3 linked regions of the Homo sapiens genome follow. Each later gene encodes a partner of the first gene's protein in a complex. Each region holds a gene or a part of one and is shown in the gene's direction. Other genes may lie near its edges. The genes, in order: CBLL1, ZC3H13 and WTAP.

Region 1 (3,754 bases):
TCTTAATTTAAAAACAACAAAAAGCAAAAAAGTCCCAAAGAAACCCAGAATGTTATCATTATTAAATGCTGTACCTCATGAACTTGAATCTGTGAAGCAGAGTGGGAAGGGCCAGCCAGCTCTTGAAAGTGGTAGACTATGCAAGCAACAGTAGAGACCTCAAGTGTTCAGGATGGTGTGAAAAGGACTTGTAATGAAGTGTTGGTATTTTCATTATTCACAAAGGTAAAACGATTAAACCATTTTGATATTTGAATATTTAATATTTGAGGGACAGCATTGAACTGATTATATGTCTACAACGACTTGCTTTTTAGTTCATTGGAATGTCAGGAATACTTTTTGAGCAAGGAAAAAAGTCATTCATATTTCTTTTGGCCAATGCATTGCTTGTAAGTACTTTTACATACATAAGCAACTACAATGAAAACAGATCAAATACATTAATCAGCTTGTGAGTCTATTTAATGAAGTGTTGAAAGCTGATCAAGTTGGGTTAACCCTAACTCAAGATTCTAGCTAACCATGTAATTCCACCCCTCTTTGTTTTAGGATTAGCTGTTATAAGAGTAGTAAGTAGATTAAAATAATCGTTATGGACCCATTTTTAATTTTGTTTGGTATTTTGTTCAGAAAAAGTGCAAATGAATGTGAACTTATTGTGTGTCTGTAATCCTAGTAGCCTTGGAGGCCATTGGTACTAGCTTACTACTTCCAAATTTGGCTTTGCTGAATTTAATGTGGATGGTTTGGCTATCAGTCTTGACTGTAATATTTCCTGCAGGGGCAGTTATACAACCTTGTTCAATAACTTGTCATGTTTAAAACACTACAAATTAAAAAATACGTTATTTGTATTTCCTATTTTAAGCATTTTCCTTCTTTAGTAGGTCAAGTTAAATATTTTCTGTATTATATATTTTCATCTACTTGAAAAAAGGTAACTCTTAAGCTTTAGATGGAGTCAGTTCTATGAAATAATACTCCTGTTACTCATGGGACAAGAATTAATTTATTCTATAGACAATAACAAGCAAAGACTCCAGGGACTAGAAAGTGACACTTGTTTAGACCTAGTTGTAGTATAGGAACTTTGCATCCTCTTAAATTATAATTTTCCATTACAGTGCTGACTAAGAACTCAGTCACATGTTATAGCACAAATACATTATTGCATGTTTTTACTACTAAATGGTATAATGATTTTTACTATATTTCTGAATGATTTTTAGAATAATTATTTTGCGCTTAAGGAATAATCACATTTCTTAACTTCATTTTCAAACGCATTGTTTAATTTTGCCTTCATCAGTATTAGTAAGTTCAGTTTACTAAATTTATTTTCTGCTTTGCATGCTTGATGATCAGACATGGAGACAGGGATGGTTTTCGTTCTTTTTCTCCTTCTTACTCTTTTTCTTTTAAAAAATTCTCTTGTAGTTCAAGACAATGGTTCTTGGGTTCATTAATGGTTTCATGTTTCTGTAAACTTCTCTGGAATTATATGAAAAATTTTATTCACTTTTCTAGGGAGAGGTCCTATAACTTTTATCAATTTCTTAAAGGATTCTGTATCTCAAAAGGGGTTAAAAAGCATTGCCTTAAGTGTTGATCCAAAATAAATAAAATTAGCAGTTAAACTTAATGTAATATTGAAAATCAGAACCCAGATCTTTAACCTTGATAATGTTAGGTATGGTGTTTTAATACCTGTGGCAGAATAATCTTTAAAAAGAAAAACTAAAAGAAATTACAACTTTTTTTTCCTAACACAGACAATGAGTTACAAGGCACTAATAGTTCTGGATCCTTGGGTGGTCTTGATGTTCGCAGACGAATTCCTATAAAGCTCATCTCCAAACAAGCAAACAAAGCGAAACCTGCACCGCGAACTCAAAGAACTATAAACAGGATGCCTGCAAAGGCTCCACCTGGTGATGAAGGTAATTTGTTTAACTAATAGGTCCAACACTCTTTCTGTTTTATCTGATTGCTTCGGACAGTCTGTGTGATCTTATAGCTACCTCTTTTTGTCTTACATATTCTATTCATTCTTCAACCTTCTTGTTTGACTTCTCATTGTAGCACATTGTATTTTTATTTTCCTTTATAAATATTTTTTGATTTGGTTCCTTTTGTTGTTGAAAGCAATACTGCCCATTGTTCAGTAATCTCAACAGTATTGCAGAAAGCATAACATTAAAAGTAAAATCCTTCTATCCAAAGATAATCCCTGTTGACTTTTTTATACAAAAGTATTAATTTTTTATGTGTAGTTGCCATTTTTTCATGTAATATGCATTTGAGATTTTTTTCTTATCAGTACTTACAGATGTACCTCATTAAAAAAATAGGTTTGGGTATTTATAGATATACCATAATTTATTTAACAGTTTTTCCAGTTTTTTCTGTTACAAAAAACATTGCACCAAATATTCTTGGACATACAGTTTAGTATGTATACTTTGTAGAATTTGTACTTTGCACAGATTTGGCCTTTTTTTTTTTTTTAAGAGCAATTTGACAGTACTTGTCAAACTCTAAAATCCACAGTATCTGTCAAGTTTTAAAATATCCAAATTTGTAGTTTTAAAGGCTTTGGAATTAAAAAAATAATAATAAAAAGGTATGTTAGTTTTTACTGCCATACACCAATACTGAGTACTAGAAACCTTTTAAAATTTTTGTTTTGATGTAAATTTATTTTAATTATGAAAGAGTGTATATTTTTTCATAGCATTGACCATTCTTGTTTAGATCCTTTCTTCTGAGTTCTTTGTAAATTAATAGGGTTTTTGTTATATGTTATGTATGTGCGTGTGTGTATATATATTTTTTTGTTTGTTTGTTTGTTTGTTTTTGTTTTTTTGAGACTGAGTCTTACTCTGTTGCCTGGGCTGGAATGCAGTGGTGGGATCATGGCTTGATATTCCAGGCTCAAGTGATCTTTCCACCTCAGTCTCCTGAGGAGCTGGGACTACAGGTGCACCCCACCTGCCTGGCTAATTTTTTATATTTAATTTTTGTAGTCATGGGGTCTTGCTATGTTGCCCAGGCTGGTTTTGAACTCCTGGACTCAACAGTCCTCTTGCCTTAGCCTCCCAAGGTGCTGGGATTACAGGCGTGAGCCACTGTGCCTGGCCTATATTGTATATATTCTTCATTTGTCTTTTGAATTTTGTATACAAAATATTTATTGCAGAGAATCTTTTTTTTTTTGAGACAGAGTCTTGCGCTGTCACCCAGGCTGGAGTGCAGTGGCGGGATCTCGGCTCACTGCAAGCTCTGCCTCCCAGGTTCATGCCATTCTCCTGCCTCAGCCTCCCGAGTAGCTGGGACTACAGGTGCCCGCCACCACGCCCAGCTAATTTTTGTATTTTTAGTGGAGACGGGGTTTCACTGTGTTAGCCAGGATGGTCTCGATCTCCTGACCTCATGATCCGCCCGCATCGGCCTCCCAAAGTGCTGGGATTATAGTTATTGCAGAGAATCTTGAAGATTCTATATAGTCAGATATCCGGTCTTTGCTTTTATGACTTCTGGGTTTTGTGACATTATTTGAAAGGCCTTCCCCTATTTCACCAGTATAAAAGAGTTTTTCCATCTTACCCTTGATTACAGGTTAGCAAACTATGTCTGTGGGCCAAATGTAGCCCTGTTTTTATAAACAATTTTATTGGAACACAGCTATGCTCATTCATTTAAGTATTATCTATGGGGGCTTTCACACTATAATGGTAGAGTTGAGTAATTG
Region 2 (3,754 bases), on another chromosome or scaffold:
GAAGCTGAAGCAGCAAGGCCTCCTGAATCCTCTTCACATTTGCACAGTGTCACTTTCACCACATTCTCTTGTCATAGCAAGTCATTAGATATGAAAAATGGGGAAATAGGCCAGTTATTGATGGGAGAGGAGCTTTGGATAAAGTAGTACACAAGCTTGGGCCTGTGAGTTGTCATATTACACCTGGGGCCTTCTCCACATGGTTGTTCATCTATATAAAGGAGCTGTCTATGATATACATGTGCTGGTATGTTTTTGTTTTATTTTTATTTCAATAGCTTTTAGGGTACAAGAGGTTTTTGGTTACCTGGATGAATTCAGAGATTTTAGTGCACCTGTCACCTGAGTAGTCCACATTGTACCAAACATGTACGTTTTTATCCCTCACTCCCCTTCCACCCTCCCCCTTCTGAGTCTCCAAAGCCCATTATATCACTCTGTATGCCTTTGCATACTCATAGCTTAGCTCTCACTTACAGGTGAGAACAAGTTGCTGCAAAAGACATTATTTTTTTCCTTTTTATGGCTGAGTAGTAGTCCATGGTTTCATGGTGTATATATACCACATTTTCTTTATCCACCCATTGGCCAATGGGCACTTAGGTTGGTTCTATATCTTTACAGTTGTGAATTTTGCTGCTATAAACATATATGTGCATGTTTTTTTTTTTCATATAATGACTTCTTTTCCTTTGGGTAGATACCCAGTAGTGGGATTGCTGGATCAAATATCTCCTTTTAGTTCTTTAGGGACTCTCCATACTGTTTTTCATAGAGGTTGTACTTATTTACATACCCACCAGCAGTGAATAAGCATTCCCTTTTCACCATGTCTATGCTAACATCTCCTGTTTTTTTTACTTTTTAATGGCCATTTTTGTAGGAGTAAGGTGGCATCTCATTGTGGTTTTTAATTTGTATTTCCCTGATGATTAGTGATTTTGAGCATTTTTTCATACGTTTGTTGGCTGTTTGTATGTCTTCTTTTGAGAAATGTCTATTCGTGTCCTTTATCCACTTTTTGATGGGATTATTTATGTTTTTCTTGCTGATTTATTTGAGTTTCTTATAGATTCTGGATACTAGTCCTTTGTTGGATACATAGTTTGCAAACATTTTCTCCCATTCTATGGGTTGTCTTTGTTATTTATTTTGCTGTGCAGAAGCTTTTTAGTTTAATTAGGTTCCATTTATTTATTTTTGGTTTCGTTGCGTTTGCTTTTAGAATCTTGGCCATGAAGTCTTTGCCTAGGCCAGTGTCCAAAAGAGTTTTCCCAGTGTTAATTTCTAGAATTTTAATGGTTTCAGGTTTTAGATTTAAGTCTTTGATCCTTCTTGAGCTGATTTTTGTTTGAGCTGAGAGGGATCCGGTTTCATTCTTTTACATGTGACTTGCCAATTTTCCCACCACCATTTAGTAAATAGAGTGTCCTTTCCCCAGTTATGTTTTGTATGCTTTTGCTGAAGATCATTTGGCTTTATTTCTGGGTTTTCTATTCTGTTCCATTGGTCCATGTATACAATATGTTTCTTAACTTTTGACCATAGTATTTATAAACAAACAATGTTAGTGAAAAAACAGGTAGTCAAATTTTAATGAAAATGGGGGAAAACACTAGAATAATTTAAGTACCCAAGAGATATAAAACGCTACTCATTTAAAGCTCAACTAAGGAACAAAAAATATAATGAACGTATGAATTATTTTATTAATTTGTCAGCAAGAAAGTGATTTCCATGAAGGGGAAAGGAACTAATTTTATGGTGTACCCACAACATATTTGGCACTGGGTTTATGACATAACTAATTTATTCCTTACTGCAATTTTATGAAATGGACTCTCATTTCCCACCCATTCAGCCCCACCCACCATTTTCAGATGAGAAACTAAGGTTCAGTGACTTCAAGGAACTTACTTAAGGCTGCGTAATAACTAATGTAGTTATAAGTTGAACTCATAGCTTTTTTACTTCAAAGCCAATATTAGGTTTTCTCATTCAGCTCTGCAGCATAAGGCATTTTTATATCATAAGAATGCAAAATTGCTGAATGTTTATATCAGAGGGTACATTAATATATTGGTTTCTGTGCTGCATGTTACCACCTTACAGTATTTAAATCTGGCAATTTTCACTTGAGTTATTCTACATGTATAATGAAGAAGAAGAAGAAATGTTGTGTATTTTAAGTTCACAATTCTTAGCAAATGAAGTAAAGAATTTGTATTAAAGACACTGAATATCCTTTGTATGATACACTCTGGCAATATTGCTTTCCTACAATTATATGTTCCAGTTATAGTAAAGAGATACTAGTAAAAACAAAAAAATCTCTTTTTTTGCCCCCTAGAATTTTATAAATTGTGTTTGCTTGTCCAATTTAGGAAGCGCTATAGAAATGAAGGGAGTCCCAGCCCTAGACAGTCCCCGAAGCGCCGGCGTGAACATTCTCCGGACAGTGATGCCTACAACAGTGGAGATGATAAAAGTAAGCAGACTCTGTTTTCTGTCTCTCTATATTCATATTCATTTGTAACCATGAAACCATCCTTTCATACTAGTAGGAACTGATGAATTAAGATTTTTAAAAAGTTGTCTTGCTTTGCTGCCTCTAAATATCTCCTTTTGTGACTAAAGTATGTGTTAGAGTACTGTCATTTTCTACTATTTATAGTAAAGCCATATTTTTATTTTTACTAAAATTATTGTCATTTTAAAAGTTTTTAAATGATCTTGATCTCTTGATCTCATGATCCACCTGCCTCGGCCTCCCAAAGTCCTGGGATTACAGGTGTGAGGAGAAATTATTATAATCTATATGTACCATGCAGTGGTTACTAACCTGGTGAGAGTGTGATTGCTTTTATCTTTTATATAGATGAAAAACACAGACTCTTGAGCCAAGTTGTACGACCTCAAGAATCTCGTTCTCTTAGTCCCTCGCACCTCACAGAAGACAGACAGGGTAGATGGAAAGAGGAGGATCGTAAACCAGAAAGGAAAGAGAGTTCAAGGCGCTACGAAGAACAGGAACTCAAGGAGAAAGTTTCTTCTGTAGATAAACAGAGAGAACAGACAGAAATCCTGGAAAGCTCAAGAATGCGTGCACAGGACATTATAGGACACCACCAGTCTGAAGATCGAGAGACATCTGATCGAGCTCATGATGAAAACAAGAAGAAAGCAAAAATTCAAAAGAAACCAATTAAGAAAAAGAAAGAGGATGATGTTGGAATAGAGAGGGGTAACATAGAGACAACATCTGAAGATGGTCAAGTATTTTCACCAAAAAAAGGACAGAAAAAGAAAAGCATTGAAAAAAAACGTAAAAAATCCAAAGGTGATTCTGATATTTCTGATGAAGAAGCAGCCCAGCAAAGTAAGAAGAAAAGAGGCCCACGGACTCCCCCTATAACAACTAAAGAGGAATTGGTTGAAATGTGCAATGGTAAGAATGGTATTCTAGAGGACTCCCAGAAAAAAGAAGATACAGCATTCAGTGACTGGTCTGATGAGGATGTCCCTGACCGTACAGAGGTGACAGAAGCAGAGCATACTGCCACCGCCACGACTCCTGGTAGTACCCCTTCTCCTCTATCTTCTCTTCTTCCTCCTCCACCGCCTGTGGCTACTGCCACTGCTACAACTGTGCCTGCAACTCTTGCTGCCACTACTGCTGCTGCCGCCACCTCTTTCAGCACATCTGCCATCACTATTTCCACCTCTGCCACCCCCACCAATACCACCAATAATA
Region 3 (3,754 bases), on another chromosome or scaffold:
GAATAGATTGTTCTGAGAACCTAGAATATTCATTGCCTTTATGAATCTAGAATTGACTTTAAATTTAGGTTATTGTGTTTGTCATTTGCGCTAAAAAAAAAATTGCCCTGGGGAATACCAAACTTCTCGGTACATTCGTGTGGTGTGAAAGTCAAAATTGCCAATTAGGTTCTATTTTGACCAAATAGTTGAATGTTGTAGACAGTTGTAAATTTTGAACCTGTTCTAATTTGCCTTTTGCCAGATGGCGCATTTAACTTTGTGGCATATCATCGACTTTCAAGGAAAGATTTACTTTTCATCAGATTAAAGTTGAGGAAGGATTTTCTTTCTAAATACTGAGGCTCTGAATTTCCCAAGTTGGATACCCCAGACAGCTAGAGTGATCTTAAAAGTGACTCTGAGAGTTGACTTAGGAAGTGTAGACATTTATCCAAAATCTGTATTTACTCCTGACTTACATTACAAATACAGAGTTTTATTTTTAAAGAAAATTTCAATAAAAAGCACCATTTAATTAAAATCTACTCACCATCAAACTTTTTAAAAAGAACATAAGCCAATGTCAGGAGTTGGAGACCAGCCTGGCCAACATAGTGAAACGCTGTCTCTACTAGAAAAAAAAAAGAAATACAAAAATTAGCTGGGCATGGTGGTGCGTGCCTGTAGTTCCAGCTCCTTGGGAGGCTGAGGCAGTAGAATCGCTTGAACCCGGGAGGCGGAGGTTGCAGTGAGCCCAGATCATGCCCGTGCACTCCAGCCTGGGCAACAGAGAGAGACTACGTCTCAAAAAAAAGAAAAAAAGAAAAGAAATTTCAATAATTGCAGGCTGGGCATGGTGGCTCACAACTGTAGTCCCAGCACTTTTGGAGGCCCAAGCAGGAGGATTCCTGAGCCCAGGAGTTCAAGACCAGCCTGGGCAACATAGCAAGACCTCATCTCTACTACCAAGAAAAAAAAAACAAATTAGCTGGGCGTGGTGGTTCATGCCTGTGATCCCAGCTACAAAGGAGGCTGAGGCAAGAGGATCAGTTGAGCCCAAGAGATGGAGGCTGCAGTGAGCTGTGATCGAGTCACTGCACTCCAGCCTGGGCGACAGAGTGAGACTCTGTCTCAAAAAAAGAGAGGAAAAAAAGAAAATTTAAGTAACTTCTGTTTAGAATCCTAAATATTGGAGATGCCAAAGAATTCTGCAGTAAGTGTTAGAAACAGTCGGGAGGACAGTATGATTATTATCCTCAACCTGTGGATTATCTCTTCAGGTTTTTCAAGAAACACTGAGTCTGTGTTTTTGATGGGGAGAAGAAACTATTAATTAAATGCCCATTTTGTGCCAGTTACCATGCTAAAGATTAATGTCTGTCTTCAGAAATAGCACAGTATTTGGGCCCTGGTTGTGGTAATTCTTTTTGAGATGGGGAAACTGAGGTGCAGAGATTTTGCTACTTTTGTATTTGCAAAGTTGACAACCTGTTTCAGAATACCAAGGTTATCAGAACTTTCTTCATGTGTTTCTCAGTCCTTTTAATGCCCTTTAAAAACAGATTATCATCTCATTTTTTGCTAAGCTTACTGTTAATTTTATTTTAGTGGAATAAGAATATGGATACCTGTCTTTAAGAAGAGAGTAAGCAAGTAAACCTAGGGAAAGTATCAGGTTGTAGAACCACATACCGATGATCCTTGCCAAAATCCTGGCATAGGAATTTGAACCCTGGTGTATGAAAAGTCTGCCCTTTGCATACTCAGGTTTCGCATCCCGTGAATGCTGTATTTTTGATCCGAGTACTGTATTTTTTAATCTGAGTTTGATTGAAAAAAATCCAAATATAAATGGACCCATGCAGCTAAAACCTGGGTTGGTCAAGGACCAACTATAATAACTTTTATAAGCTGGAATTTATATTGAACAGCATCCATGATACTTTAGTATTACAACTAAAGTTGTACATACTGAGTAGGTAGGATGCCTTAGTAACTAGATAAAAGGTATACCACCTAGCCATAGTGATAAATATAGCTGTTTTCAAACTGTCATTCACAGATCTCTACCACAGTACCTGTTACGTGAAGTTCCTGGTTGGTTCTCAAAATTTTATGTTCGTATATACATAGATACAGATACTGATATACCGGTTAAATATGTACAGCTCAAATAGCTAAAATTGTCTTTAAGATTTTTTAAATTAAAAATATTATTGGCCGGGCGCAGTAGCTTACACCTGTAATCCCAACACTTTGGGAGGCCAAAGCAGGTGGATTACCTGAGGTGAGGAGTTCGAGACCAGCCTGGTCAACATGGTGAAACTAAAAATACAAAAATTAGCCGGGCGTGGTGGCAGGCACCTGTAATCTCAGCTACTCTGGAGGCTGAGGCAGGAGAATCGCTTGAATCCAGGCGGTGGAGGTTGCAGTGAGCCGAGATCGCGCCATTGCACTCCAGCCTGGGCAACAGAGACCGGGCGCAGGGGGAGGGGGAGTGTCTCTGTCTGCTTCTTTCTCTCTCTCTCTCTCTCTCTCTGTATATATATATAGTGTGTGTGTGTGTGTGTGTGTGTGTGTGTGTAAAATTGATATTTAGCTCCAGACAAATGGGAAATTACAAGGAAATGCCAGATTTGATATCTGGGTTCTAAGACTTTGCAGCCTAATGCATGTGTCATGCTAAAATAGAAGTAGTTAGACATGTGGAGTTAAATATGGTGATGGTTTCTGAGATGATTAAAATGACTGCCACCAGGTTAAGGTAGTTACAAAGCAGCTTTCTGTAATGGCAGCAGAGATAATAAACTGGGCAACAAGGGAGGAACCAATTTAAAGAAAAAAAGAATAATATACATTTTATATCATAGTAATATGGTTTATGTCTTCATAGGACAGAGTGACTTGCTCAGTGAAACAGACTGTATACAATTAGCTCAGAAACAAATACTGAGGTTTTTATCTGTTTGCTGTATCCCTTGAGAAAGATTAAAGAGGGAAGGCAGGGTGCAGTGGCTCACGCCTGTAATGCCAGCACTTTGGGAGGCCAAGGCAGTTGGATTGCTTGCGCCCAGGAGTTCGAGACCAGCCTGGGCAGCATGGCGAAACCCTGTCTCTACCAAAAAAAATTACAAAAAATTAACTGGGTGTGGTGGCACATGCCTGTAGTCCCAGGTACTCGGGAGGCTGAGGTGGGAGGATCACTTGAGCCTGGGAGGTCAAGATTGCAGTGAGCCATCATCGCACCACTGCACTGTGGTCTAGGTGACAGAGCGAGACTGTCTCAAAAAAAAAAAAAAGCCCAGCACGCTGGCTCATGCCTGTAGTCCCAGCACTTGGGAGGCTGAGGTGGGCAGATCACCTGAGGTCGGGATTTCCAGACCACCCTGACCAACATGGAGAAACCCCGTCTCTACTAAAAATACAAGGAAGTTAGCCGGGCGTGGTGGCGCATGCCTGTAATCCCAGCTACTTGGGAGGCTGAGGCAGGAGAATTGCTTGAACCCAGGAGGCGGAGGTTGCGGTGAGCCGAGATCGCGCCGTTGCACTCCACCCCGGGCAACAAGAGCGAAACTCCATCTCCAAAAAAAAAGATTAAACAGAGAAAGAAGCAAGCCAGTAATCTAAGATCAATTTATGATTTTTCCTCTAAATTCTGCTTTCTTCAACACAATTTACTTAATCTGAAAACCAGGGTTTAATAACAGTATGATTAGAATGTTTCATTTATAAAGTGGAGTTGAGATTGTACGTAGTATAAAACATGCTGTTG

Evidence for each region.
Region 2: CBLL1 (region 1) and ZC3H13 share a complex: the UniProt entries of both Homo sapiens proteins name them as parts of the WMM complex.
Region 3: CBLL1 (region 1) and WTAP share a complex: the UniProt entries of both Homo sapiens proteins name them as parts of the WMM complex.

What each region holds. Positions count from the first base shown.
Region 1 is NC_000007.14:107,747,105-107,750,858, forward strand, and holds part of CBLL1 (E3 ubiquitin-protein ligase Hakai), read left to right. Parts: exon of another isoform or gene 1-392; intron 393-1,775; coding exon 1,776-1,943; intron 1,944-3,754. UniProt on the Homo sapiens protein: E3 ubiquitin-protein ligase that mediates ubiquitination of several tyrosine-phosphorylated Src substrates, including CDH1, CTTN and DOK1. Targets CDH1 for endocytosis and degradation.
Region 2 is NC_000013.11:45,969,096-45,972,849, reverse strand, and holds part of ZC3H13 (zinc finger CCCH domain-containing protein 13), read left to right. Parts: intron 1-2,384; coding exon 2,385-2,488; intron 2,489-2,878; coding exon 2,879-3,754. UniProt on the Homo sapiens protein: Associated component of the WMM complex, a complex that mediates N6-methyladenosine (m6A) methylation of RNAs, a modification that plays a role in the efficiency of mRNA splicing and RNA processing.
Region 3 is NC_000006.12:159,730,353-159,734,106, forward strand, and holds part of WTAP (pre-mRNA-splicing regulator WTAP), read left to right. Parts: intron 1-532; exon of another isoform or gene 533-613; intron 614-2,044; exon of another isoform or gene 2,045-2,079; intron 2,080-3,754. UniProt on the Homo sapiens protein: Associated component of the WMM complex, a complex that mediates N6-methyladenosine (m6A) methylation of RNAs, a modification that plays a role in the efficiency of mRNA splicing and RNA processing.